7 linked regions of the Homo sapiens genome follow. The protein of the gene in region 4 purifies or fractionates together with the protein of the main gene of each other region. This does not show direct contact. Each region holds a gene or a part of one and is shown on either strand. Other genes may lie near its edges. The genes, in order: RUFY1, MCFD2, ATF2, CAPZA1, PLS1, ARHGAP1 and WASHC4.

Region 1 (3,500 bases), on a different chromosome or scaffold from region 4:
CAGGCGTCCACAGCAACCTATCTAGACTGGGACACCAAGGAGGAGAGCTGTCAAGTCAGAGGGGAGCAGAACTACCAGGGTCTGCACCCCATCAGCACCTGCAGCAGAGACAGACAGACTCTGGCGGATGCAGTGGCCAGTTCCCCGAAAGGAAGGGGGCTGTGCTGTGCAAGGCGGGTGAGTGCACCTCTACTGTGCCAGGCTTCCGTTCCCAAACCAGCCCTGCTCCCTCTGGCCTGACTGTAGGCTGACCAAGCGATCCTCTCATTGCCCATCTGTTCCCTCAGGCCCTGGATATGAAGCTAAGGAATAGGAGTGTCCTGGTCACTAGGAATGAACGTGCTTCCTGAATTAACTAAGAGCTCGCTGACACCCCATGTGGGTAGCAGAGATCAGTGCTGGGCCCCTCTGAGGCCGGGCTTCCTGAGAGCTCATCCGTGAACGGCGGACTGAGCTCCTAAATGGCCCACCCTCCGTTCGCCAAAAGGAGGTAGGTTTGGGGCCTGAGGGATGTGGTGGGTAGCCTGGTGTGCCTGCAGTGGCAGACAAGGGGAGTGGGGTTCTTACTGGCTGAGGTGCAGGCCCATTTCCTGGAGGGCTTGTTCCTGCTCCTCGCAGATCTTCTGCAGCTCTGCCTTCTCGTCCTGAAGCTCCCGCAACTCCTAAAATGAACAAACCAACCAGATGCTGGACAGAGGATTACACGGTCCTTTTTTTTTTTTTTTTTTTTTTTTTTGAGACAGGGTCTTGCTCTGTTGCCAGGCTGGAGTGCAGTGGCACGATCTTGGCTCACTGCAACCTCCGCCTCCTGGGTTCAAGCGATTCTCCTGCCTCAGCCTCCCAAGTAGCTGGGACTACAGGTGCCCGCCACCATGCCCTGCTAATTTTTGTATTTTCAGTAGAGACGGGGTTTCACCATGTTGGCCAGGATGGTCTCAAACTCCTGACCTCGTGATCTGCCCGCCTCGGCCTCCCAAAGTGCTGGGATTACAGGCGTGAGCCACTGCACTGGCCTTTAAAAAAAAAAAAAAGATTCAGCAACCAGAGCAACAAGCAGATCAGAATGTTTTTCAAGAGCAAAAGGTGGCCAGGCACAGTGGCTTATGCCTATACTTCCAGCACTTTGGGAGGCCAAGACAGGTGGATCACCTGAGGTCAGGAGTTTGAGGCCAACCCGGCCAACATGGTGCAACCCTGTCTCCACTAAAAATACAGAAATTAGCTGGGTGTGGTGGCAGGCACCTGTAATCCCAGCTACTTGGGAGGCTGAGGCAAGAGAACTGCTTGAACCCGGGAGGCGGAGGTTGCAGTGAGCCGAGATGGTGCTACTGTACTCCAGCCTGGGCGACAGAGCAAGACTCCATCTCAAACAAAACAAAACCAAAAAAAAGAGCAAAATGCAGTCCTGTATTAATGTCATTCAAGATTATTTCTTGCTAGCTTACTCTTGACACTGGGCAGCTAAAAGGCAAGCACTCGACGAGGGCTCTGCAGCTGGGGACAGAGACATGGGACAGGATAGTTACATTCATCAGCCACATTAAAAATAGTTACCCTCAGCTGGGCGCAGTGGCTCACACCTGTAATCCCAGCACTGGGAGGCTGAGGTGGGCGGATCACCTGAGGTCAGGCATTCAAGACCAGCCTGGCCAACATGGCAAAACCCCTCCTTTAGTTAAAAATACAAAAATTAGCAGGGCATGGTGGCACATGCCTGCAATCCCAACTACTCGGGAGGCTGAGGCAGGAGAATCGCTTGAACTGGGGAGGCGGAGGTTGCAGTGAGCCGAGATCACACCACTGCACTCCAGCCTGGGCAACAGAGCAAGACTCCGTCTCAAAAAAAAAAAAAAAAAAAAAAAAAAAAAAGTTACCATCATAGGACAAATGAGGCTTTGCCTATTTGAGCTTCTTTTTAAAAGATAAACATTTTACAAAACAGATTGCTATCTCAAAAAATCTATAGAAGAACTGTACACAAAATCACACGAACCTTGCATCAGCAAAGACTAGTTTGAAAGGTGGTTTCCTGTTCAATTCTGAAAAAGCTGCTTTTTTGGAAAGCACTGGTCAAGGATGATGAAGGGGGTGACCTGGGACCTCATTTCATGGCTAGACCACTTGGAGGCTGGCTAGACCATGTGAGGAGCCCTGCACGGAGGGAGTTCCCCAGGGGGCAACGGCACTGACACCTGGGGCCAGTGCACCTTGAGCCAGTCTGTTAAGGCCAGGATGGAGACCCAGAAAGTAACTGGGGTTTCTGGGACCACTGGGAGCAGCGGTGGAGCTCGGGCCCGAGTGGCGGGGTGGCTCTCTGCACACCCTGTGCCGTAGCTTCTGCTTCCATGCACAGGCTTGCAAAGCACAAAGCTGTGGCTTAACTGGGGTTATTAGACATTGTTTTGTTCCTATTGTTGGGGCGGGCTGTAATTGTGTAATTCGAATCTTTTGACAGAAGCATTCTGAAGCAGAATAAAGGAGGTATGCCCCGTGATGAGGCGGGACTTTCTGAAAGTCCTCTTCTGCCCTCCACTTCCTCCCTTCCACTCTCCAAGCCTGATCTGGCTCTTGAGGAAGCTCTCCCTTCCCCAACAACTCCAGGCACTTTCCAATGGAAATCAAAAGGGCCTTTCCTGACTCGCTCGAATCGTGCAGTGTGTCCATTACCACGTTCAACACAACAAAATCCAGGTCCAGAAGCCACCCTGGCCCTGAAGGCCCCTCCGGGGCAGGTGCCGAGGGGAGGTCTGCTTTGGGCTCAGTTTTCCTGCAGCGCTCGGCAGCGCAGGGGCCTGAGAAGAGGGCACGCCATCCCCACGTGGGAGGAGCCCCCCAGAGCGCCCCAGGCTGCAGTCAGCTCCATCCAGGATCGCAGAGCCTCCTCCCCTCTGGGAAAACAGCCGATGATTTTACATTAGGGCAAATGTTCCACACGGCCTCGGAGTTTCCTGGGAGGTCCAGTTCCACAGCCAGACAGTGAAGGCCTGCTGGACCCCACTTCTCTCGCCCTCTGAAGCCCACAGCATCCAGGCCATGCCTCCAAGTGAGAGGGTCCTCCATGGAACTGAGGTGATGTAGGGGAAGTGGAGGGCTGGGGTCGGTCTGCTTCCCAGGGATGACCCGACCCTGGGCACAGTGGCTGAGGTGAGGCTGGCATGTGGTAGGAGATGTTTACTGGTTCCTCCCAGCTTCCTCTCCTGCGAGCCTACCACCCACTCTCCACACAGGAGCCAATGACCATCCGCAAACAGAACGGATCCTGTCCCTCCACCAGCTGCCCACTCTGGTAAAATAAAACCCACGTTCCTTCCCCTGGCTCCCAGGGCCCATGAAGGGCTTCCTCCTGCCTGCCGCCTGAGGCCGCCTCTTTGCTCCTCACACTGCTGTCTGCTCCTGCAGTCTCCACCCAAGAGGTGCTTTGCAGGGCATAACTCACTGGAGCCTCTGCTCACCGGTCGCTCCCTCCCCAGGCCCCTTGCACACGGGTGAGGACACTGTTC
Region 2 (3,500 bases), on a different chromosome or scaffold from region 4:
AGGCACTGTGCCTGATACTGGGAATGTGGATTCAGTCCAAGTCCTCTTAAAGCCCATCCAGCAAGGGGCACTGACAAGTAATCAGGCAGTTTTTCAAGAATTCATTCACACACAAGAAAACAAAAGAAAAAAAAGAATTAATTTGCAGCTGTCATCAGCTGTGGACGGGAGCCTTCTGAAGGGAAGCACTTGGGAGCCTGCAGGACGAATACCTACACCAGACTTGGAATTGAAAAGACCTCACTGGAGAAAGAGACATTTGATGTAAATGAGTCTGAAAGGCTTGGGAGGAGCTTGATTCCCTTCTCTGATCCTTCCTGTCCCAGAACTCTAAGATGTGTGGTCAGAACAAGTTGTTCTGCTATGGCCTAGGCAGTCACTGCTAGGAGTAACCTGAAACCTTGTTTTGTGGTACCAGGTACAGTGGCAGTGGCCTTGTCAGGGTCTGGACACGTTTAAAAAATTTTTTTGAGACAGTCTCACTCTCTTGCCCAGGCTGGAGTGCAGTGGTGTGATCTTGGCTCACTGCAATCTCTGCCTCCCGGGTTCAAGCAATTCTTGTGCCTCAGCCTCCCAAATAGCTGGGATTACAGGTGCACGCCACCATGCCCAGCAAATTTTTTTTTGTATTTTTAGTAGAGACGCATTTTGCCACATTGGCCAGGCTGGTCTCAAACTCCTGACCTCAAGTGATCCACTTGCCTCGGCCTCCCGAAGTGTTGGGATCATAGATGTGAGCCACTGTCCCTGGCCAAGGTCTGGGCACTTTTATTTGGTAAAATTGGAAGTGTAGTTTCTGACTGTTTCTGAATTATTTTGTGGAGATAAGAATTAACCGGAAACTCCTTTTGTATCCGATCCATATAGTATTGGGACAAAATTATGGGATAGATTACATTGAATACATATTCATAAAAAATGGTAGCAGATCTCGGCTCACTGCAGGCTCCACCTCCGGGTTCATGCCATTCTCCTGCCGCAGCCTCCCAAGTAGCTGGGACTACAGGTGCCCGCCACCACGCCTGGCTAATTTTTATTTTTGTATTTTTAGTAGAAACGGGATTTCACCGTGTTAGCCAGGGTGGTCTCGATCTCCTGACCTCGTGATCTGCCCGCCTCGGCCTCCCAAAGTGCTGGGATTACAGGCACGAGCCACCATGCCGGCTGAAAATCACAATTCTAATCTCATGTCTCAAGATAATCTTTGTTATTAGTTTGTGTAGGAAATACACATTTTTATTTTACAAAAGTGTATTATTCTTTATTGCTTTTTTGCAGCCTGTTCTTTTTCATTCAATATATATTGAGCATTCTTTCCTATTAAGTATGACATATTGCTTTTTTTTTTTTTTAAACTACAGATATAAAAGGTCTGAGGTGGCCGGGCACGGTGGCTCATGCCTGTAACCCCAGCACTTTGGGAGGCCGAGGCGGGTGGATCACCTGAGGTCTGGAGTTCGAGATCAGCCTGGCCAAGATGGTGAAACCCTGTCTCTACTAAAAACACAAAAATTAGCTGGACGTGGTGACATGCACCTGTAATCCCAGCTACTCGGGAGGCTGAGGCAGGAGAATTGCTTGAACCTGGGAAGCGGAGGTTGCAGTGAGCCAAGATTGCGCCACTGCACTCCAGCCTGGCGAAAGAACAAGACTCTGTCTCAAAAAAATAAAAATTAAAAAATAAAAGGTCTGAGACAGATTGCATTTTGATGTCACTGTTTAGAAGTAGACTAGATTCTAGGTGCTTTTTAGCACCCTGGAAGTTTCTTCCTTTTTTTGGTGGTGGAGGACAGGGTCTCACTCTGTTACCCAGGCTGGAGTGTACTTCAGCCTTGAACTCCTGGGCTCAAGCAATCTTCCTATCTCAGCCTCCTGAGTGGCTGGGACTATAGGGGTGCACTGCTACGCTCAGCTAATTTTTTATTTTTTGTAGAGATGGGGGTCTGACTGTGTTGTCTAGGCTGATCTCAAACTCCTGGCCTCAAGTGATCCTCCTGCCTCAGCCTCCCAAAGTGCTGGGATTACAGGTATGAACCACCATGCCTGGCCTATCCTGGAAGTTAGACATCCCAGTGACTATTGTCCCCTTTAAGGAGGGGGCCATGGGAAGCAATACTGGTAATGGGAAAAACGGATTTGGGAAATTTTTCTAAGTGTTGTAGGGTGGCATACTCACACTTTCAGGGTTCTGCCCTGAGAGCCTTTTAGGATGGGTAAGAGGGACTATAACACCTCTACCTCTCAGCCCCAGGCACAAAGACAGCTACAGCTTCTGAGCTGAGCCCTGTGTGTAGCATGTAAAGGGGATGACCAGTGCCTTATGGTTTGTCTTTACCACTGCTGGTTTGGGGCTGTGGACTACAATTGACCTGTTAGAAATCCCTGGCCTTGTTATCTAGCAGAATCTGTTTTGCCTGTTGGGAAGTGAGTGTTCGGTCAGGTCTTTTGTTTTTGTATGTAGGTCACCTGGCTGTCCTTCACCTTCCTTTTTGAGGTCAGTCTGTCAGCCCTAGGACAGACCAAGACTTTCCATTGAATCAACAATTATTAAAGGCCTGCCTGACCCTTGGCGGGTAATACTGGTGGGGTTAAAGTTCTCCCTGCCCTCCAAGAGCTTGCTCTGTAGCTGACTGTCATCTTATTGACCACAATTCCAAGTGTGGCCAAACCCTGGGAGTTCCTGATGGCATCCTGATTTCTCTGTAACTTTTCTTTCCAGTGCCCGCTCACTGTAGTTACTTGCCACTGTTACCACCCAGGAGGTACAGAACCTTGTCCGCTGCCGCAGACCTTGATCTGACCCGCCTTACCACTCCCTTGGCTACCATGCTCCTGCCTCTAGTCTTGCTTTTGCCACTTCATGCCTTCCCCACTGTGCTGCCAGATGAGTCATTCTGAAACCAAGCTCTGATCTCACCTCCCATTCATGAATTGTAAGTGACTCTCCTGTCTTTCTCTGCAGGAGATGTCAAGCCCTGGCCTAGTGTGCAAAGCCCTGTCCAGTACAGCCTGTCTAGGCCTTGGAGCCACCTCTGTCCTGTCTGCTTCCTACCCTCTAGGCTGCAGCCCAGCTGAACTACTTGTAGTTTCTTTCCCGCTTGTGGGCACCTGCCACTCTGCTCCCACCATTCCTGTGGTCCTTCAGTCCCTGCATATCTGTCCAGGCCCAGCTGAAGTGTCACCAGCTCTATCAGCCTTCTCTGATTTTCCTCCACTCGGAGGAGATTTCTTCCCCTGAACTCCTAGAGGGTTTTCGCTTTCTCTGATAATCTGATATAACTTGCTGGCTGCCTTTCCTGGTGCTCTTGATAGAAAATATTTCTTTCAGGGGACCATAACTTCTGGGAGGCAAGAATAATCTTCCAGTCCCTTCAAGCTTTCACGTGTTGCTTGGCACTCTGCAGGCACTTCAGGAAACCTCGTGAGCCTTCCCCTGCCATTTGAGTGACTTGGAGTGCCCAGGGTCATCCCACAGTCTCAAAGCAGAGCTGGCATTGGGC
Region 3 (3,500 bases), on a different chromosome or scaffold from region 4:
CAAAAGTACCACTGTTTCTTATTTCTCCAAAATTGGGGGAGATTCTTATAATGATAAAGTAATAGGAAGACAGTACCTGGGTGGGGAAAAGTTTGATTGTGGTCCTACTGCCTATAGTTGCTGCCCAGTAAATGTCTGAAGAGTGAATGAATATGTCAAGTAGTGGAAGTGTTGTTGCATCTGAACACTCTCCTTCAGTGGTAATACAGGCAGGTTCTGAAGAGAGGTTATAAAATAATAGTTTTCTGTTGGCATGTGAAGTAATCCAAAGACTAAGTGATAAAATGTAGCAAGATTAAATTGAAGTTGAATTCATCTTAATGAACAATGGTTTAGGGTCTTTTTTAGCCCCCTCAGATTGATCTTTAAGATTCATCTATTTTATTGTAATGAATTCATTCTTTCAGTTAGCATTTATTGAGTACTTAACTATATGCTAAGTTTGGGGGACCACGGTAGGAGCTCAGCCTACTTAAAAGGACAGACATATGAAAATATGATAGGTGCTATAACCAAGGCATTGTGCCGCACACATGAGATGATTTTCACCTCTACAGGCAGACGGATAGTGGACTGGGCCAAAGATGTTAAAATGTTAAAAATGTTTCATTCTTTTACATTGTGTTTAAGGTAACCCTAAAGCTACTATTATTAGTTGCATGAAAGGATGTAGTGAATTGGGTAGGGGAAGGAGACCACAAGAAATGGAATTCATTTTGATGGTTTGGGCAAACCAAGTTCAAGTATATATATTTTAACATCCTCACTTGTAAGGTTATAAAGAGTGAATTGAGATCTGTTAACTTAGCATTTTAAAATTATTGCTCTGAAATAACAGCTCCCTGTTTTCAGTTATAAATGTTGCTTAATGAGCATCTTCAAAAATGTTGATGTTCAGACATTGGAGATAATGCATTTATTATGTTGTAATCATAAATGTTACCTTTGGCATGCAAAACTTATCCAAGTTAGAGGTAGGAAAAAATATGATGGATAACTTTAAAAATAAAATGTTCTAAAAACAACTTTGCTCCATTTTTATGTAAGAACTCTCATGAAAAAATTATTTTGGCTACTTTAAATTTTTTTATTTTAAAATGAGCTGTTTTGTTATTGTATCGGTTGCTATTTCTTTGCTGGATTAAAACAAAGGCATTCTTTTTTATGTGGTAACATAAAAATCAGATTTATTTCTAAATTTTGTCCAGGCGTAATACTTTTATAAGAAAATTCTCTTTTAAAAAGTGGTAAGTAACCTTAAGTCTAGGTAAATATTAATACTACAGTACTTTCTTGAAAAGTCATTGAACCATGGAGTATAGTTTCTACTATGATAAGACAAATTAATGGTGGTCTATTTTTAGTATCCATAAGAAATTTATATAAAGTTTCTTTGCCTCCAATTTTATTTTTAAATGCTCTCAAATGAGTTATGTGACCTAGCAATATATCAGTATTGCTTATTCTTGAGTAATAGGTTTCTCTGTGATTGTTTGCAATCTAGTGTGCTATCTACTAACAATAACGGATTCTTTTATAGTTTAAAAACTGCTATTTCACTGTTAATGGTGGTTTTACATGTTGTGGAAATTAATTTCCTAATCATTTTACTTATTTGATCAAATTGAAAATCTTAACTATATTTTAAAACTTTTTGCCACAGCGTTTTACCAACGAGGATCATTTGGCTGTCCATAAACATAAACATGAGATGACACTGAAATTTGGTCCAGCACGTAATGACAGTGTCATTGTGGCTGGTTAGTATATGCTTTTATTAATAGCTTGTATACATATTTCACCTGGAATGTGCACAATTTTTGTGTATTCTCTGTAAATAATATAGTCTGGTGATATTCCAATGACTTCATTATAGTAAATGTTGGCAACATGTATTTTACCCATTACATTTTCATGTTTCCTTCTGACTATTCATTTCATTTTTTTGTGTGGTTTTCAAATTTATATTCCAATGTCGATTTTGTGGAAGTTCATTAGAACTCTGGGAACATTCATACCATCTACAAATTTTACATTTAACTAATAATTGAACTAACATGGTATTTAGTCAGCATTTCTTTTAGCTGTCTTGTACAACTGACTTACAAGGCTGTGTGAAGATAGAAAATGATCAAGCTTCTCCCATTGGAGAAAGAACAGTGAGCAGACTTGTTCATTAGAGTTGTTTATATTTCTTTTCAGACTAAACATTTGTATTAGTAAAATATTCTCAGTAAGGAGGCTCTAAATTCAGTCAATGCAGTTTTTGTGTGTTGACACTATGAACGTACAGTATCACCTAAGCAGATGATTATTTTTCACTGTATGTGAAAAGAAAAACCCAGTTCATACATTGGTTGATTGTCATTCCATGCTGTATTAGCTGCCTTTTTTTGGTATTTAAATATATACACACACACATCTATGTATATATACATATATGTCATGTATAATTTTGCTACTTTTTTGTATATTTTATAAGTATTATGATAAAACAAAACTATATAAATTTCAGATCCTTTGTGTCATCACAGATTTACATATCATAAATATTCAGATTAACTCCAGATTTTTCTTTTCTCTTGTAAAGCTTGTTATATGTCATATAAGTCTGGAATTACACCCAAATACTGTAATACTTTTAAATTATTAATCAGTATAGAGACCAAATTGTTCTATGCAGTGTTTTGGATAGATAATAAAGCAAATATTCGGTGGTTTTCCCTCTACTTACAGTATTGAAATTTTTGTAATGAAGAAATTGAAGGTAACAAAGTTAATTTATCGAAAACAATATACGTAGGAAAAATGTAGGGGAACTTCCAACATATCCTAACTAAGTTCCATAAGTAACTTAGAGATATGTTACTTATACAGAAGAGTGAGATAATGCTTTTTTTTTTTTGGAGTATTTTACATTAGACATTAAGAGCTAGAACCAAAGGAACCAAACAAGCAAAATAGTAACAACCTCGAAAGTTCACTCTCCTAGGCATGAAGCTCTTTGTTTCTCTGAAACTTTCTGCCTTAGCACAATCTCTGTCTGTGTGTAACTCTTTAACTCAAATATGTTTTGAAATTGGTTTCTAGAAATTACTTTCCTGTCTGATCACATTTAATGCAGTAGAAAAATAGAGCACATTCAAACACAGTACTTGACCTTTTTTTTCACTAACATGTTGAGATGAATAGGTTAACATTACTATGCAAATAAAATGCATGATGTGTGTGGTATATTTTTGGTGATCAGTAGCCATATGCAATGTGCATGTTAAATGATTGTGCCTATGTTGACTTTTCTGAAGTCTGATGGTTCCAGTAATCATTGATAAAAGTGACTTATGCTTATGTATTTTATTTTTTTAAGATTTTCCCCTCCCTTTAATGTAAGTTAAGAGCCTTCTGATGAACTTAGATAGACAAACCCTTTGGGTGTGAACAGAAGAGTCACATTTAGATTTGACCTACTAATTTAGTCATGATGGACTTAAGCTAATACA
Region 4 (3,500 bases):
TAATGATAACAAACCCATTACTTGTTAATAAGTAACATCTTTGTGAATATATTTTCCAAATCAAAAGAAAAAAATAGTGGGAAGAATGGCATTAGTCTGTGTCTTCACAAATTGTGTATTAAAAGATGGCGGACTTTATTGTGATATTAGTTGTTTTTTGCTTGTTTGTTTGTTTTTTTGAGATGAAGTTTCGCTCTTGTTGCCCAGGCTGGAGCACTGTCTTGGCTCACTGCAACCACCACCTCCCAGGTTCAAGTGATTCTCCTGCCTCAGGCTCCCGAGTAGCTGGGATTACAGGTGTCTGCCACCATGCCCAGCTAATTTTTGTATTTTTAGTAGAGACAGGGTTTCACCATGTTGACCAGGCTTGTCTTGAACTCCTGACCTCACCTGCCTCGGCCTCCCAAAGTGCTGGGATTACAGACATGAGCCACTGTACCTGGCCTCTGCTTCATACCTTTCATTATCCCTGAAAGTGATAAAGTCATCACACATCATGTAGTTTCTAGGAAATTACATCATACACACATTACAGAGTGAAAGTGAAACAGGCAAATAACTTTGTGTTAGTATTATTATGAAAGTAGAAAATAGTTTTGACCTCATAGTCTGTCTTAGGACTGCAGCTCTAGATATTAAATCCTACCCTCTTCCCTTTAATTCTGTTGTACTTAATGGTAACAGGAAGAGGGAGATTCATTTCATTTTAGACTTGAACCACGTGGTACAAAATGTGATTGGCTAGTTTAACATCATAAGTGGCAAATAAAGGCATATGTGAGCTTATGTATATGACTGATGTGTCCAAGGGCATTGTTCATACCATTTTAAACCAGAAATATTTTCAAGGCATCAAGGTTTCAAGACTTGATGATGTCTTTTGGGCGTACTGTGGTAGAGTGGAAACAGCATGGGTTTTTTTGGTGAAGACCTAATTTCAGATCCCATCTTTATCATTCAAAAGCTGTATAATTCTGGTCAAGTTGCTTAAGAGGATTCTGTTTTCTCATCTGCAAAATGGGGGTTATGATTATAACATAGTGTCTTCCATAGAGTTGTTGTGAGAATCAAAGGAGGGTAGTGGGCATGGGAACACTTGGAAAACTAGAAATTGTCATACAAATGTTAGTTAAGATGGACTTACTTTCAGGATCTTACTGCTTACACATTAAAAAAAAATCTGATTTTCCCCTTCTTCCTTCCTTCATTAGAATGAAGCCCAAACTGCCAAGGAGTTTATTAAAATCATAGAGAATGCAGAAAATGAGTATCAGGTAAGAAGATTTGGAGTTAATTTTCCTAGATCTACTATCTTATTATTTCGCTGTTAGCATATTTTGTTAGGCCTTGTGTCCTTTAATGTAAATATACATGCTCTTCAGTTTTACTAAATGTGGGAGACTTTGCAGACCTTCCAAGTTGGCATTCTGCTTACAGTCAGGGTTTGAGGATTGCTTGGGACTGTAGCCCTCATTTTAGAAATAATATAGGTGAACTTCTTGACCTACTTCAGAGATTGGAGAGGAGCTCATTGAAAATAATATATCCTGTCTATCCTTCACAGGGGACTCAAGCATATCCATTGACTATAGCATTACTTTTCTGTTCACAACCAGCCCCATTTCTGTTCAAGCAACTCATCTTCAATTATCTATTGCAGACAGCAATTAGTGAAAACTATCAAACAATGTCAGATACCACATTCAAGGCCTTGCGCCGGCAGCTTCCAGTTACCCGCACCAAAATCGACTGGAACAAGATACTCAGCTACAAGATTGGCAAAGAAATGCAGAATGCTTAAAGGCTGAATGTAGGATTCTTCAGTATGTGGAAAGACAAGGATTCAACGTGTGGTCATATGATAAATAAGTGATTTATAAACAAGAGTGATATTTTGCTAGGGCTTTCAAAGTTAACCGGTTTTCTAGCCTCATGGAATACTGTTGAACCTATAGCGTTGTCTTGATTCTTTTGTGTTCTCTGCCTTGTAATTTTCTGTTACTGCTATATCTACGTGTAAATCTTTTTTTCTTTTTTTTTTTTTTTTTTTGGTTAATTCTGCCACATTTAATGTTGGTGAGAGAGTGATCTATCCTAATGACATTTTACTGTTTAAAAAAGTTTCCTAGCCATGAAGCCCTGCTACTGATTTAGACAAGGTATTATGGTCATTACTTTGTACCCCTATCCTTCCAAGCACTTCTGGTACTTCAGTCGTTTTTACTGATCCACCAACACCTAAAGAGGCTATGCTACAGTCTCTAGCTAAATGGAAGACACATTCATCCTTCTCCCTCTGACTGCTTTGATCATCATTTATTGCATCTCATAACTAATTTTCTAAAGTTTGGATTGGGACTTTTCAGGTCCTTTTTGGAGGGCAAAGGAAGTGCCAGCTTCTCTGGGGAACTTGTTTTTAAATCCAAAGACTTGAACCACATTCCCTGCACATGAACATGTTTGCTTTTATCCCTTCTCTCATTGTCTCCTTCCCATCTTAGTACCATTGTAGTTATAAACATCTGCATTTTTTAGAAGCATTTTACCCATTTATTTTTTTAAACATTCAAGAACTGCTGACGTACTGTGGATGTAGAGTATAAAACTTGAAAAATGCAGATGTTGAAGGAATAATAGGTATCTTGTGCTTTAATACTTTATGGCAGGATTGTACTATAAGCAAATGAATTAAACAGCTATGTAAATCATAAAGAAAAACTAAAAATGAACCAAAGTGAAAGGATAACTTCCAGGCAGTATCTTTCTATTGTAACCTGTTATTTAAGGAAATACTAGTGATTTCTTCTAAATAGGATGTAAAACTTCTTTCAAATTACTCTTCCTCAGTCCTGCCTGCCAAGAACTCAAGTGTAACTGTGATAAAATAACCTTTCCCAGGTATATTGGCAGGTATGTGTGTAATCTCAGAATACACAGGTGACATAGATATGATATGACAACTGGTAATGGTGGATTCATTTACATTGTTTACACTTCTATGACCAGGCCTTAAGGGAAGGTCAGTTTTTTAAAAAACCAAGTAGTGTCTTCCTACCTATCTCCAGATACATGTCAAAAAAAGAAAGGTGTTTGTGCTTCCGTTTTGTTTCTGCTCAGTAATATAGTCAAGCAAGTTTGTTCCAGGTGACCCATTGAGCTGTGTATGCATTTTTGTTTATTTCAATAAAATATATTTGTATTATTTGTCCTTCATACTATCCATCCATACCACACTATCTTCTGTATCAGGTAGTCTAATAGAAATATACCTGTTTTGTTCTAAAATTGTCTGAGTCTCTCCTTTTTGATTCATCGCTTCAGCCTTGGTTCTCAAGGTAAGATATTCAGCTGTATTTGATCTTATGTTGAGAATGTTTAGGGTTTCTAAAATTGGTTTCTACCTTCAACTATTTATAGACTCTGAATATCCACAGATTTGCAAAGAACAGCTTTTTAAAGCGTGAGCAATGTCTATGGATCATACTGCTCTTCACTCAAAG
Region 5 (3,500 bases), on a different chromosome or scaffold from region 4:
ATGGTACTAATAAAAAGAACATTCAGAATGAATATATTTATAGAGTATAGAAAAGTACTAAATACAGTACCTACATTAGGAGGGGTCAAATCTGCATTTCATGAAGCAAAACAGGAAAGTATTATATATTATGAGACAGATAACGATAGACCACACAAAAGACAAATAACGAACACTGTAATTTTTTTCATGTACACTAAAAACCTTAAAAAGAGAACAATACTAGAGTCAAACTGGACCTTTCAAAGGAGAAAAACACCTACAAATAATTATTTTATTCTAATAGATAATTCATTGTCCATGTTGGTGGTAGAGCTGTTATGTGATCATTTATGAGAATATTTTAAATGTATGATAGTTTTCACTAACCTCTTATGGAGAAATAAAAGATTTACCCCAGCATTCTCTTTTAACCAAAACCAGCAACCACCTTCCATAATTTTAATTTTTCAATAGATACACATACCTACACACACTAAATTGCATTTCCCACCACAATCCCCTATCTCTGACAGTGAAGTAAGACAATACCATAAGAAGATAAATATAGCAAGTCAATTAAAGGCAGAAAGAACGCACCTTCCAGTAAATTCATATCGATGTCATTATTATTCGGCTTGTGCAGGCACGGGTATGTGTTAAACAAATTAGCTACAAAAGCTAAATTAAGTTTAGGATTGCCTGAAACCACATCTGCAGGAGTAACAAACTGTTTGCAGCCCAGTTTATCTGCTTCTTGAAGCATGAGTCCAGCACGCTTCAGGTCATTTGTCTCCTAAACAATAAAACAAAAATGGTTACAATTGAAGTTTTAATTGGCATAATTTTTATTGGTATACATGTTTATAAGCAATTACTTTTCCACAAATATATCAAATAATAACTCAAAATAAGATCAAAATGTGTAGTAATTCCAAGTCAACTTACCCATTCCTTTATTTATTTATTTATTTATTTATTTATGTATTTAGAGACAGAGTCTTGCTCTGTTCCCCAGGCTGGAGTGCAGTGGCGTGATCTTGGCTCACTGCAACCTCTGCCTCTTAGGTTCAAGTGATTCTCCTCCCTCAGCCCCTGAGTAGCTGGGATTACAGACACATGCCACTATGCCCAGCTAATTTTTGTATTTTTAGTAAAGACAGGGTTTTGCCATGTTGGCCAGGCTGGTTTCGAACTCCTGATCCGCCCACCTCGGCCTCCCAAAGTGCTGGGATTATAGCCGTGAGCCACTAAGCCCAGCCCCCGTGCCTTTTAAGTTAAAAGGAAAAAAGTCTCTGAATTTCCTTGCTGGGATAACTGAGTTATATTTTACCCTTTTTGCTAAAATACTCAGCAAAATCCTCAAATATTGTATCAGTAAGCTCCTACTGGTTGCACTATAGATAACTTATTCAAGACCAGCTAGTAGAGTGCCCTCTGGATAACAGGCATAGTTATCATACCCACTGTACACTGAGTGACATTTCCAGAAGGCTCTTCTTGATGAAAAACAAGTTGAAATACATATTTTAAAAATTAAAATCATAGGGAAAAGCACCTTTCACAATTGCAAAACCCTGGAAACAAATGAAACAACCCAAATACCTATAAACAGGAGAGTAGATGAATGAATTTGTATATTCACACAATGACATCCAATATGGGTAACTCTTAGAGATACAAGGCCAAAAAGAAGTACTAGAAATTTAAGTATAACATGATAAACTTTAAAGGAAGTTAAAAAGTAAAATGAAGAATTTAATTTTGTAAGGGATACATTTGGATGAAGGGAAACTACATAAAAAGAAAAGCAGAACAACAATGAACACAAGATTCAAGACTGTGGTTACCACACTGGGCGAAAACCGAGGTGGGATAGGGAAGAACTGTACAGAAAATGTCACGTCAAAGTTTTAGTTTTCCTGTTAGATTGAGAGTTCATGAGGCTTGTTACAATTTCAAAACAAACAACCACACACAAAAATAAATTTAAAAATGGGTATGCACAGACCCATATGAGTATATCATGACCAAAGATAACCTACCTAATTCTGTGCACCAGAGTTGCAAAATAATTAATCATATAAATGAAATCAGAGAAAGCAACAGATTATTAAATTAACAAAGAAAAGTTACCATTGTAGACATCAAAAAATGACAATATGTGGCTGGACGTGGTGGCTCATGCCTGTAATCCCAGCACTTTGGGAGGCAGAGGCAGGCGGATCACTTGAGGTCAGGAGTTTGATACCAGCCTAGCCAACATGGTGAAACCCCGTCTCTACTAAAAACACAAAAATTAACCAGGTGTGGTGGTGTGCACCTGTAATCCCAGCTACTCAGGAAGTGGAGGTAGGAGAATCACTTGAGCCCAGGAGGCGGAGGTTGCCATGAGCCAAGATTGTGTCACTGCACTCCAGCCTGGGCGACAGAGCAAGACTCCATCTAAAAAAAAAAAAAAACAAACAAATAAAGACAACATGTGGACCTTATTTTAGATCCTAATTCAAATAAACTATGAAAAAAATGGCATTTATGAGGCAAGTGGAAATGTCAACATTGACTAGATATTTTGATGATGTTACAGATTGTTGTAATTTTTTTAAGGTATGATAAGGTATTGTGGTTTTATTTTAAAAGTGTCTTTGTCTTTTAGAAATATATATTGAAATATTTATCCATGAAGTAATGTCTAGGATTTGCTTCAAAATAATATAGGAGAGGAGAGAAATAGGGAATAAACGAGATAAGATTGACCATGAATTGGCAGATGTTGAAACTGAGGGATGAGTACCTGATAGTTTAGTATACTAAGTCTGTTCTCTTGAATATATTCAAAATTTTCCATAAGTTTAAGTTCCTAATTTTTTTACTTAAAATGATTTGCACATTTTACAGAGCGTTGCAATACTGTGTTTCTGAAATATGTCATTATAATAATGTGAGATATAATTAATTAGTAATGACTCAAGTTGCCTTTAAAACCAAATGTTACGGACGCCGCACTTTAAGTACGTGATATATTTTCATACAGTCTATTATCTGACCAAATTTTAATGTTTAGAATTCAAGTTTGTCCAACCCACGGCCGGTGGGTCACATGCGGCCCAGGACAGCTTTGAATGTGGCCCAACACAAATTTGTAAACTTTCTTAAAACACTAGATTTTTTTGCACCTTTTTTTTTTTTTTAGCTCATCAGCTATTGTTAGTGTTAGTGTATTTTATGTGTGGCCCAAGACAATTCTTCTTCTAATGTGGCCCAGGGAAGCCAAAAGACTGGACATCCTGATTTAGATAGAACCATCCCTGGTATTTATAACTTATGCTAAAAGAATGAGATTCCTAGGAAGTATGCTTGGTAGGTCAGAATCTGTATCAGTCCTTCCTACACCATGAATATCTATTTTTATTTTGTAGATTTCTAAATATAAGCTGGTAAAACTGATAATTGATTGCTTAAAAATCTAACAACAGGTTGTTGCTTCCTTTCCTGGCATATGCTGACAGTCAAAAGAGCAC
Region 6 (3,500 bases), on a different chromosome or scaffold from region 4:
TGTGCCTCCCTGATTGCTGAGAGGAGGCTGGATTGGCATCACCAGGCACTCATTTGGTGAGACCGTGGAGATGTCCGGGAGAAGCCCTTGTAGGAAGGGAGGGTGGGTTATAGCCTCAGCTCTCCCTGCCGGGAATAGTTGTCATGCCCCAGGGTCAGATTTGGCTCAGTCCCAGTGGGTTCTTTCCAGTGGTGTGCTGGTAAATGGCTCTCTGGAGAGGGGGAAAAAGGCCATGATTTGTAGCATTTGCAGTTTCTGCCTCCCAGCTCTCTAGCTACCAACATGATGTCAACTGGCTTGCAAAATTCCTGACAGTTGAACAGCTTAACAAATGTGTGAGCTGGCTGTAGCACATGACTGGCTCCATCAGCCCAGCCCTACCTCCCAGGTCCCAGGCCTGCTGGTCCGGTTGTGGGTGGGGCTGGTTTGAGGGGGCCCAGAATGCCTGGGGAGACCTGTTGGTGATTAACTCCAGGGCCACCCTGGAGTTAGGACCAGCCTGGGCAACATAGTGAAACCCTGTCTCTACAAAAATAATAACAATAAATTAGCCAGGTGTGGTAGCCTGTGCCTGTAGTCCTAGCTACTTGGGAGGCTGAGGTGGGAGGATCCTTTCAGTCCAGGAGTTGGAGGCTGCAGTGAGCTATGATTGAACCACTGCACTCCAGCCTGGGTGATAGAGCAAGATCCTGGCTCAAAGAAAAAAAAAAAAGATTACAGTCTAGTGAAGTGGTTCTTAAAACTGGTCACAGTCCACTTTGCAACTATGAAAGGTATCCCCAGGATAGGGGGGATCTCTTTGACTGAAAAAAAAAAAAAGTGCAGCCAGGTGCGGTGGCTCACACCTAGTAATCCCAGCACTTTGGGAAGCCAAGGCTGGTGGATCACGAGGTCAGGAGTTCGAGACCAGCCTGATGAACACGGAGAAACCCCGTCTCTACTAAAAATACAAAATTAGCTGGGGTTAAGGCCAGGCGCGGTGGCTCATCCCTATAATCCCAGCATTTTGGGAGGCCGAGGCGGGCGGATCATGAGGTCAGGAGATCGAGACCATCCTGGCTAACACAGTGAAACCCCGTCTCTACTAAAAATACAAAAAATTTTCTGGGCGTGGTGGCGGGCGCCTGTAGTCCCAGCTACTCAGGAGCCTGAGGCAGGAGAATAGCGTGAACCCGGGAGGCGGAGCTTGCAGTGAGCGGAGATCGTGCCACTGCACTCCAGCCTGGGCAACAGAGCGAGACGCCGTCTCAAAAAAAAAAAAAAAATTAGCTGGGTGTGGTGGTGCATGCCTGTAATCCCAGCTACTCAGGAGGCTGAGGCAGGAGAATCGTTTGAACCCAGGAGGTAGAGGTTGCAGTGAGCTGAGATCACGCCACTTCACTTCAGCCTGAGCGACAGAGCGAGACTGTCTCAAAAAAAAAAAGTGCACATGCTTGTAATATTTGTCATATAACATCATGGAGGTGCTGTGTCTGCTGAGCACATTGGTGGAGCCCTGGTTCAGAACCCAAAGCTTCCCACTTACAAAGTGCTGTGGCCAGCTGAGAGGAGACACCACAGGCCTCCAGCCCTCCCCCCAACAGCTTCCCTAACCAGTTGCTACCTCTTATATTTTAGACCCAGGGGCCTCACAGACTTTCTGCCCTGGCTGAATCCTCAAATCTGCCAGCCAATGAGGCCTGCCTTGCTGCTGGTGCAGATGTGAGGTGCGGGGACTCATGGGCTGGAAGGAAAGATCCTTTTGGTAGCCCCCATTGTCCTCGAGCATTTCCCCCAAATCCTGGTTATTTCCTCGCTTAGAAGGAGGTAGGCAGATGAGGCCCCCTCTTCCCAGGCTGGTGGTAGGCATCTCTGGGGTTTCTGAAGCTCCAGACTAGTGAGACTGGGCTTGCCAGTCTAACCCTTTGTCCCTGGCCCCTGCCAGTCTGCTTTTCCTTCCACTGTCAGAGCCAGTGGGAAGTGAATCAGAGCAGGCACATAGCCCCAGAGCCACCCCCAGCTGGCCTCCGGGATCTCAGCACCTCAGGATCTAGGCTAGGGTACGAAAGAGAGCAGGTACCACCTGGTCCTTCAAAACAGACCTGCCGGGATGGAGCTGCACCTCCTCTGCAGACAAGCTGGTAGAGGATTCTCTACTTGCAAATCTGGAGACGTTCTGTCCTGAGCTTTGGGAAACTCACTATCTGAAGCAGTCTGACCCATAACCAAAGCATAATCAAGAACAAACACAGAGGCCAGGTGCTGTGGCTCATGCCTATAATCCCAATACTTTGGGAGGCTGAGGCGTGCAGATCATCTGAGGTCAGGAGTTGGAGACCAGCCTGGCTAACATGGTGAAACCCTGTCTCTACTAAAATACAAAAATTAAGGCTGGGCATGGTGGCTCACACCTGTAATCATAGCATTTTGGGAGGCTGAGGCGAGCAGATCACCTGAGGTCGGGAGTTTGAGACCAGCCTGACAAACATGGTGAAACCCCGTCTCTACTAAAAATACAAAAATTAGCTGGGTGTGGTGGGACATGCCTGTAGTCCTAGCTACTCAGGATGCTGGGGCAGGAGAATCACTTGAACCCGGGACGCAAAGGTTGCAGTGAGCCGAGATCGCGCCATTGCACTCCAGCCTGGGTAACGAGCAAAACTCCATCTCAAAAAAAAAAAAAAAAAAATTAGCCTGGTGTGCTGGCACCTGCCTGTAGTCCCTGCTACTTGGGAGGCTGAGGCAGGAGAATCTCTTGAACTTAGGAGGTGGTGGTTGCAGTGAGCCCAGATCACTCCACAGCACTCCAGCCTGGATGATAGAGACTCCATCTCAGAAAAAAAAGAAGAACAAACACAGAAATATAACTAGAACCAGGCATCCCATAGTTTAATGGTGACCTGCGATTTTGTGCAGGCTACCAAAACGTATTGAATACCTGCCACATGCCAGACACTGGACCAGTACTGGAGACTGTAGGTGCCATGGTACGCAACTGTAATCCCAGCTACTGGAAAGCTGAGGCAGGAGTTCAAGACTAGCCTGGGCAACATAACAAGATTCTGTCTCAAAAAATTGTTTTTAATTAAGCAGGTGGGATGGCATGTGCCTGTAGTCCTAGCTACTCAGGACATGGGAGGCTAAAGCAGGAGGATTGTTTGAGCCCAGGAGTTCAAGGCTGCAGTGAGCTACAGTTATGCCACTGCACTTCAGCCTGGGTGACAGAGCAAGACCCTGTCTCTTAAAAAAAAAAAAATCACAGCTTGCCAGGAGTAAACAAAGAAAAAGAACAAACAAAGACAATGAGACACAGCCTCTGTCTTTGAGCTGCTCACAAGCCTGTCAGGGAGACAGGTACATAAACAATTCTACAGGAGAGTGAAGGGTCAGGACAGTGATGGGTGACGGTTTATGCTGGGAGCCATGAAAAGGGGCAGCTAACCTGTCTGGGGAGAGAGGGCGAGGACACAGGATTCCAGGCGGCGATTATGCCTGCATTGAGTCTTAAGGGTTGGTGGGGG
Region 7 (3,500 bases), on a different chromosome or scaffold from region 4:
GGCCTCACTGTGGGAAGAAGAAATACAGAACTATTATTTTAAGTCCCAAGATGTTCTAATAGTCTATTTTTGGGACTAAATTTACTAATATTGATCAGTTTTCTGTCCATGAGAAAATAAGTTTATTCTGAACTCCAAGAAAATTTTCTTAGAAGTGTCTTACAGTGTTTCCTGCTTTTCAAGTGTTCTTATCTAAACTATTGAGAGATGGATTTTTTTCAAAGCCACGCTTCTTTTGAGAAAGGAACCAAATAATTTTTTGCTTTTTAGGCATTTGGATTCAGTCCTCAGTGATCACACACGAAATTCTGCCGAAGGCACAGAATATTTCAAAATGCTTGTAGACGTTTTTGCTCCAGAATTTCGAAGGCCAAAGAATATACATCTCCGAAATTTCTATATAATTGTTCCCCCTCTGGTGAGTATTTCCAGAACCTAAAATGAATTTTTTTTTTAAAAAGAGTATGCACAAATAGATCTGGTTTCTTTGTAACACGAAATGCATACAGACTACACTATTAATTTCCTGGTTGCATATAAAACTAAATGTGATCTCAGTGAATGTGACATAGAATTTTTTATTTGTTAGCCATGCTGAAGGACACTTTCTTATTGTTAAATTTTTTTTTTCTTCTGAGATGGGGTCTTGCCCTGTCACCCAGGCTGGAGTGCAGTGGTGTGATCATGGCTTACTCAGGCTTGACCTCCTGGGCTCAAGCCAGCCCCCTGCCTCAGCCTCCCTAGTAGCTGGGACTACAGGTGTGCACCACCATGCCTAATTTTGGTAATTTGTTTTCTTTTTTAAGATATGGGGTCTCACTGTGTAGCCTAAGCTGGTCTTGAACTCCTGGGCTCAAGCAGTCCTCTTGCCTTGGCCTCCCAAAGTGCTGAGATTACAGGCATGAGCCACCACGTATGGCCTAAGATAGATTCTTATTTTTTTTAAATAATTACTGGAGAAATTTGAGTATTTTTTAAGTTATATGAGTATATGCCATAGAATCTTTGGGCAGAATTATTAATATATAATCATTTTAAGTGCTTAATGTAGAATAACTTTAGCTGTTATTATAGTTTTTTCTAACACATTTCTTAAAGCATATTGTTTCAAGATAACTTCTTTCTATTCAGTAGTAAATACTAACATCTGGACTAAATTTTTAATGCTTCTTAGAGTATGTAACGTGTTCTTGCTCTAACTCTGTAGTTGCTATCTAAAAATAGTTCAAGTTATCAAAAATTGCATTATAAAAACAGCTGTTCCATTAGGGAAAATGGAGTTAAGAATTTTTGAGAGGTATATATTAGTAATAAGAGTTGTTTTGGCTTAAGGTTCCTATAAAGTTTAAAAAAAATTGTAAGTAGATAGCTTTAAAATCTAAATATCACCCAGCAGATGAAGCTCTTTATTATATTTAATTTTGATCAAGAATAGTGACTTTTCATATTGCTGCCCAAGTTGTTAACACATCTTCTTACATATTAAAACCATTATTACCTATTGAAAGTAGCTAATAGCCTATAAACAGCTTTTTTCCATGAATTTTGTTTCTTTTATACATTTGTTAATTTTCTATCATAATTGTATTTTAACTATGATATAGCAAAAAATGTTCATATTCATCTTGTAAGAATCTTTTCATCTTAAGATAGTGTCAAACTGGAGGGAGAGTGTCATATTTGGTAATACTATAGTTAACTTGGGGTGAGTTCTCACCATATTTTTTTAATTTGAAGGGCAATGTACTCAAACCATTGTAGACAGCAGTTAACCCATTGGTAAGCTTAGGAAAAAGTCTGGAGTTTTACAAGGCAGTTGTCAGAATTCGCTTAGTGATGGAGAAAACAAAGTGGATTAAAAGCACTACAAAGAAGTATAGAATACTGTTCTTGTACTTGTGTTTGTAGTGTAGTTCCAGAAAAAAGACAAGCATAAATGAGATTTCTAAAAAAGATTGAATTAATGATTGATAAAAAATTCACAAACAGGTGATTAATTGCTGAATAAGTTTCACAGTCAAAAAAATGAAACTTGGTTTTGTTTCCAGCGTAGGCTATTATAGTACTTAGCACACTGTATATCATAATTAGTTTTTAAACACTTCTGCATTTACTCTTCTAGAGCTGTGCTATCCATGTATAGTCACATGTGGCTACTTAAGTTAATTAAAATTTCATAAAATTAAAATCATAAGGCAGGGCGAAAAAAATAAAAATACCTTTTTAAAAATTAAAAATTCAGCTTGTCAGTCACACTAGCCTCATTTCAAGTGCTCAGTGGCCGCTTGTGATTAGTGGCTTACTGTATGTACTGGATGGTGCAGATACACATTTCTGTCCCTGCCAACAGTGTTGCTCTAGACTGTGAACTCTAGATAGAAATCATTTGTTTAATCATAAGTACTTAATAATGCCTGGTATATTGTAAGCTTCAGTAAATCTTTGTTGAATAAAAGATATGATTAGATAAGTCATTTTGGAAGAGCTGAATTTTCAAGAGACGTACTGTTTTGAGGATTCACACTTAAGAACATGAAAAGAAATAGTATTTTCGAATGAATTAGGTAGGTGTAAGTAAGGACTGTCTTGCATATGTTTTTAAGAGTACTTGTGCTTTGAAATAAAGCAGGCCTACTTTGCTAACTCCAGCATTCACTTAATATATGACTTTGGGTGAGATAATAAATCTCCCAAGCCTCGGTGTCCTTCTCTGTAAAATGTGCATAATATTTTATAATGAGATATACAAGGCACTGTTCTTGGGCTAAGTAGTGATTGAGGGAGTGCCCATATTTAAAGGACTTGGAAAGGAGATCCATGAAGATACACTTGTATAGATTGTATCTTCACCAAGAGGGTACCTAAGGCAAATGTTTCAGATGAAAAGGACAGGAATCTAGATTCTATTCTATTCTATTTATAGTGATTCTATTTATAATTTTTAAAATGTCTGTTATAGGAATTCTGAAGATTTTCTTAGCAAAATTGTTTTTCTAACATGTTGTTACATCTTTTTAGACCCTCAACTTTGTAGAGCATTCCATTAGTTGCAAGGAAAAATTAAATAAAAAAAATAAAATTGGAGCTGCCTTTACTGATGATGGCTTTGCCATGGGTAAGCTTAATGGAATTGTTTTTCCATTAATTTTATATTGACCTTGTAATGGATTCTTAGAAACATCTGCTTGAGAATAGGTCTATATGTTCTTTATAGATTTTTCTTTCTTTTTTCTTTTTTATTTTTTTGAGACAGAGTCTCGTCTCGCTCTGTTGCCCAGGCTGGAGTGCAGTGGCACGATCACTGCAAGCTCCGCCTCCTGGGTTCACACCATTCTCCTGCCTCAGCCTCCCGAGTAGCTGGGACTACAGGCACTCGCCACCACACCTGCCTAATTTTTTTTGCATTTTTAGTAGAGACGGGGTTTCACTGTGTTAGCCAGGATGGTCTCGATCTCCTGACCTCGTGATCTGCCCGCCGCAGCCTCCCAAAGTGCTGGGAT

Evidence for each region.
Region 1: the proteins of CAPZA1 (region 4) and RUFY1 purify together in Homo sapiens (affinity purification with mass spectrometry; 2 studies listed by BioGRID, with this or other methods). This does not show direct contact.
Region 2: the proteins of CAPZA1 (region 4) and MCFD2 fractionate together in Homo sapiens (co-fractionation; one large-scale study listed by BioGRID). This does not show direct contact.
Region 3: the proteins of CAPZA1 (region 4) and ATF2 purify together in Homo sapiens (co-immunoprecipitation; one large-scale study listed by IntAct). This does not show direct contact.
Region 5: the proteins of CAPZA1 (region 4) and PLS1 purify together in Homo sapiens (affinity purification with mass spectrometry; one large-scale study listed by BioGRID and IntAct). This does not show direct contact.
Region 6: the proteins of CAPZA1 (region 4) and ARHGAP1 fractionate together in Homo sapiens (co-fractionation; one large-scale study listed by BioGRID). This does not show direct contact.
Region 7: the proteins of CAPZA1 (region 4) and WASHC4 purify together in Homo sapiens (affinity purification with mass spectrometry; 2 studies listed by BioGRID and IntAct, with this or other methods). This does not show direct contact.

Annotation. Positions count from the first base shown.
Region 1 is NC_000005.10:179,599,054-179,602,553, reverse strand, and holds part of RUFY1 (RUN and FYVE domain-containing protein 1), read right to left. Parts: intron 3,287-3,500; exon of another isoform or gene 3,165-3,286; intron 3,070-3,164; exon of another isoform or gene 2,919-3,069; intron 2,482-2,918; exon of another isoform or gene 2,456-2,481; intron 663-2,455; coding exon 568-662; intron 491-567; exon of another isoform or gene 288-490; intron 178-287; exon of another isoform or gene 1-177. UniProt on the Homo sapiens protein: Activating adapter involved in cargo sorting from early/recycling endosomes. Regulates retrieval of proteins from endosomes to the trans-Golgi network through interaction with the dynein-dynactin complex.
Region 2 is NC_000002.12:46,909,307-46,912,806, reverse strand, and holds part of MCFD2 (multiple coagulation factor deficiency protein 2 isoform A precursor), read left to right. Parts: intron 1-1,933; exon of another isoform or gene 1,934-2,027; intron 2,028-3,500. UniProt on the Homo sapiens protein: The MCFD2-LMAN1 complex forms a specific cargo receptor for the ER-to-Golgi transport of selected proteins. Plays a role in the secretion of coagulation factors.
Region 3 is NC_000002.12:175,119,704-175,123,203, reverse strand, and holds part of ATF2 (cyclic AMP-dependent transcription factor ATF-2), read left to right. Parts: intron 1-1,663; coding exon 1,664-1,760; intron 1,761-3,500. UniProt on the Homo sapiens protein: Transcriptional activator which regulates the transcription of various genes, including those involved in anti-apoptosis, cell growth, and DNA damage response.
Region 4 is NC_000001.11:112,668,332-112,671,831, forward strand, and holds the end of CAPZA1 (F-actin-capping protein subunit alpha-1), read left to right. Parts: intron 1-1,211; coding exon 1,212-1,274; intron 1,275-1,564; coding exon of another isoform or gene 1,565-1,660; coding exon 1,661-1,801; 3' UTR 1,802-3,285; downstream 3,286-3,500. UniProt on the Homo sapiens protein: F-actin-capping proteins bind in a Ca(2+)-independent manner to the fast growing ends of actin filaments (barbed end) thereby blocking the exchange of subunits at these ends.
Region 5 is NC_000003.12:142,686,893-142,690,392, reverse strand, and holds part of PLS1 (plastin-1), read right to left. Parts: intron 776-3,500; coding exon 580-775; intron 1-579. UniProt on the Homo sapiens protein: Actin-bundling protein. In the inner ear, it is required for stereocilia formation. Mediates liquid packing of actin filaments that is necessary for stereocilia to grow to their proper dimensions.
Region 6 is NC_000011.10:46,690,620-46,694,119, reverse strand, and holds part of ARHGAP1 (rho GTPase-activating protein 1), read left to right. Parts: intron 1-3,500. UniProt on the Homo sapiens protein: GTPase activator for the Rho, Rac and Cdc42 proteins, converting them to the putatively inactive GDP-bound state. Cdc42 seems to be the preferred substrate.
Region 7 is NC_000012.12:105,159,731-105,163,230, forward strand, and holds part of WASHC4 (WASH complex subunit 4), read left to right. Parts: intron 1-270; coding exon 271-418; intron 419-3,018; coding exon 3,019-3,115; intron 3,116-3,500. UniProt on the Homo sapiens protein: Acts as a component of the WASH core complex that functions as a nucleation-promoting factor (NPF) at the surface of endosomes, where it recruits and activates the Arp2/3 complex to induce actin polymerization, playing a key role in the fission of tubules that serve as transport intermediates during endosome sorting.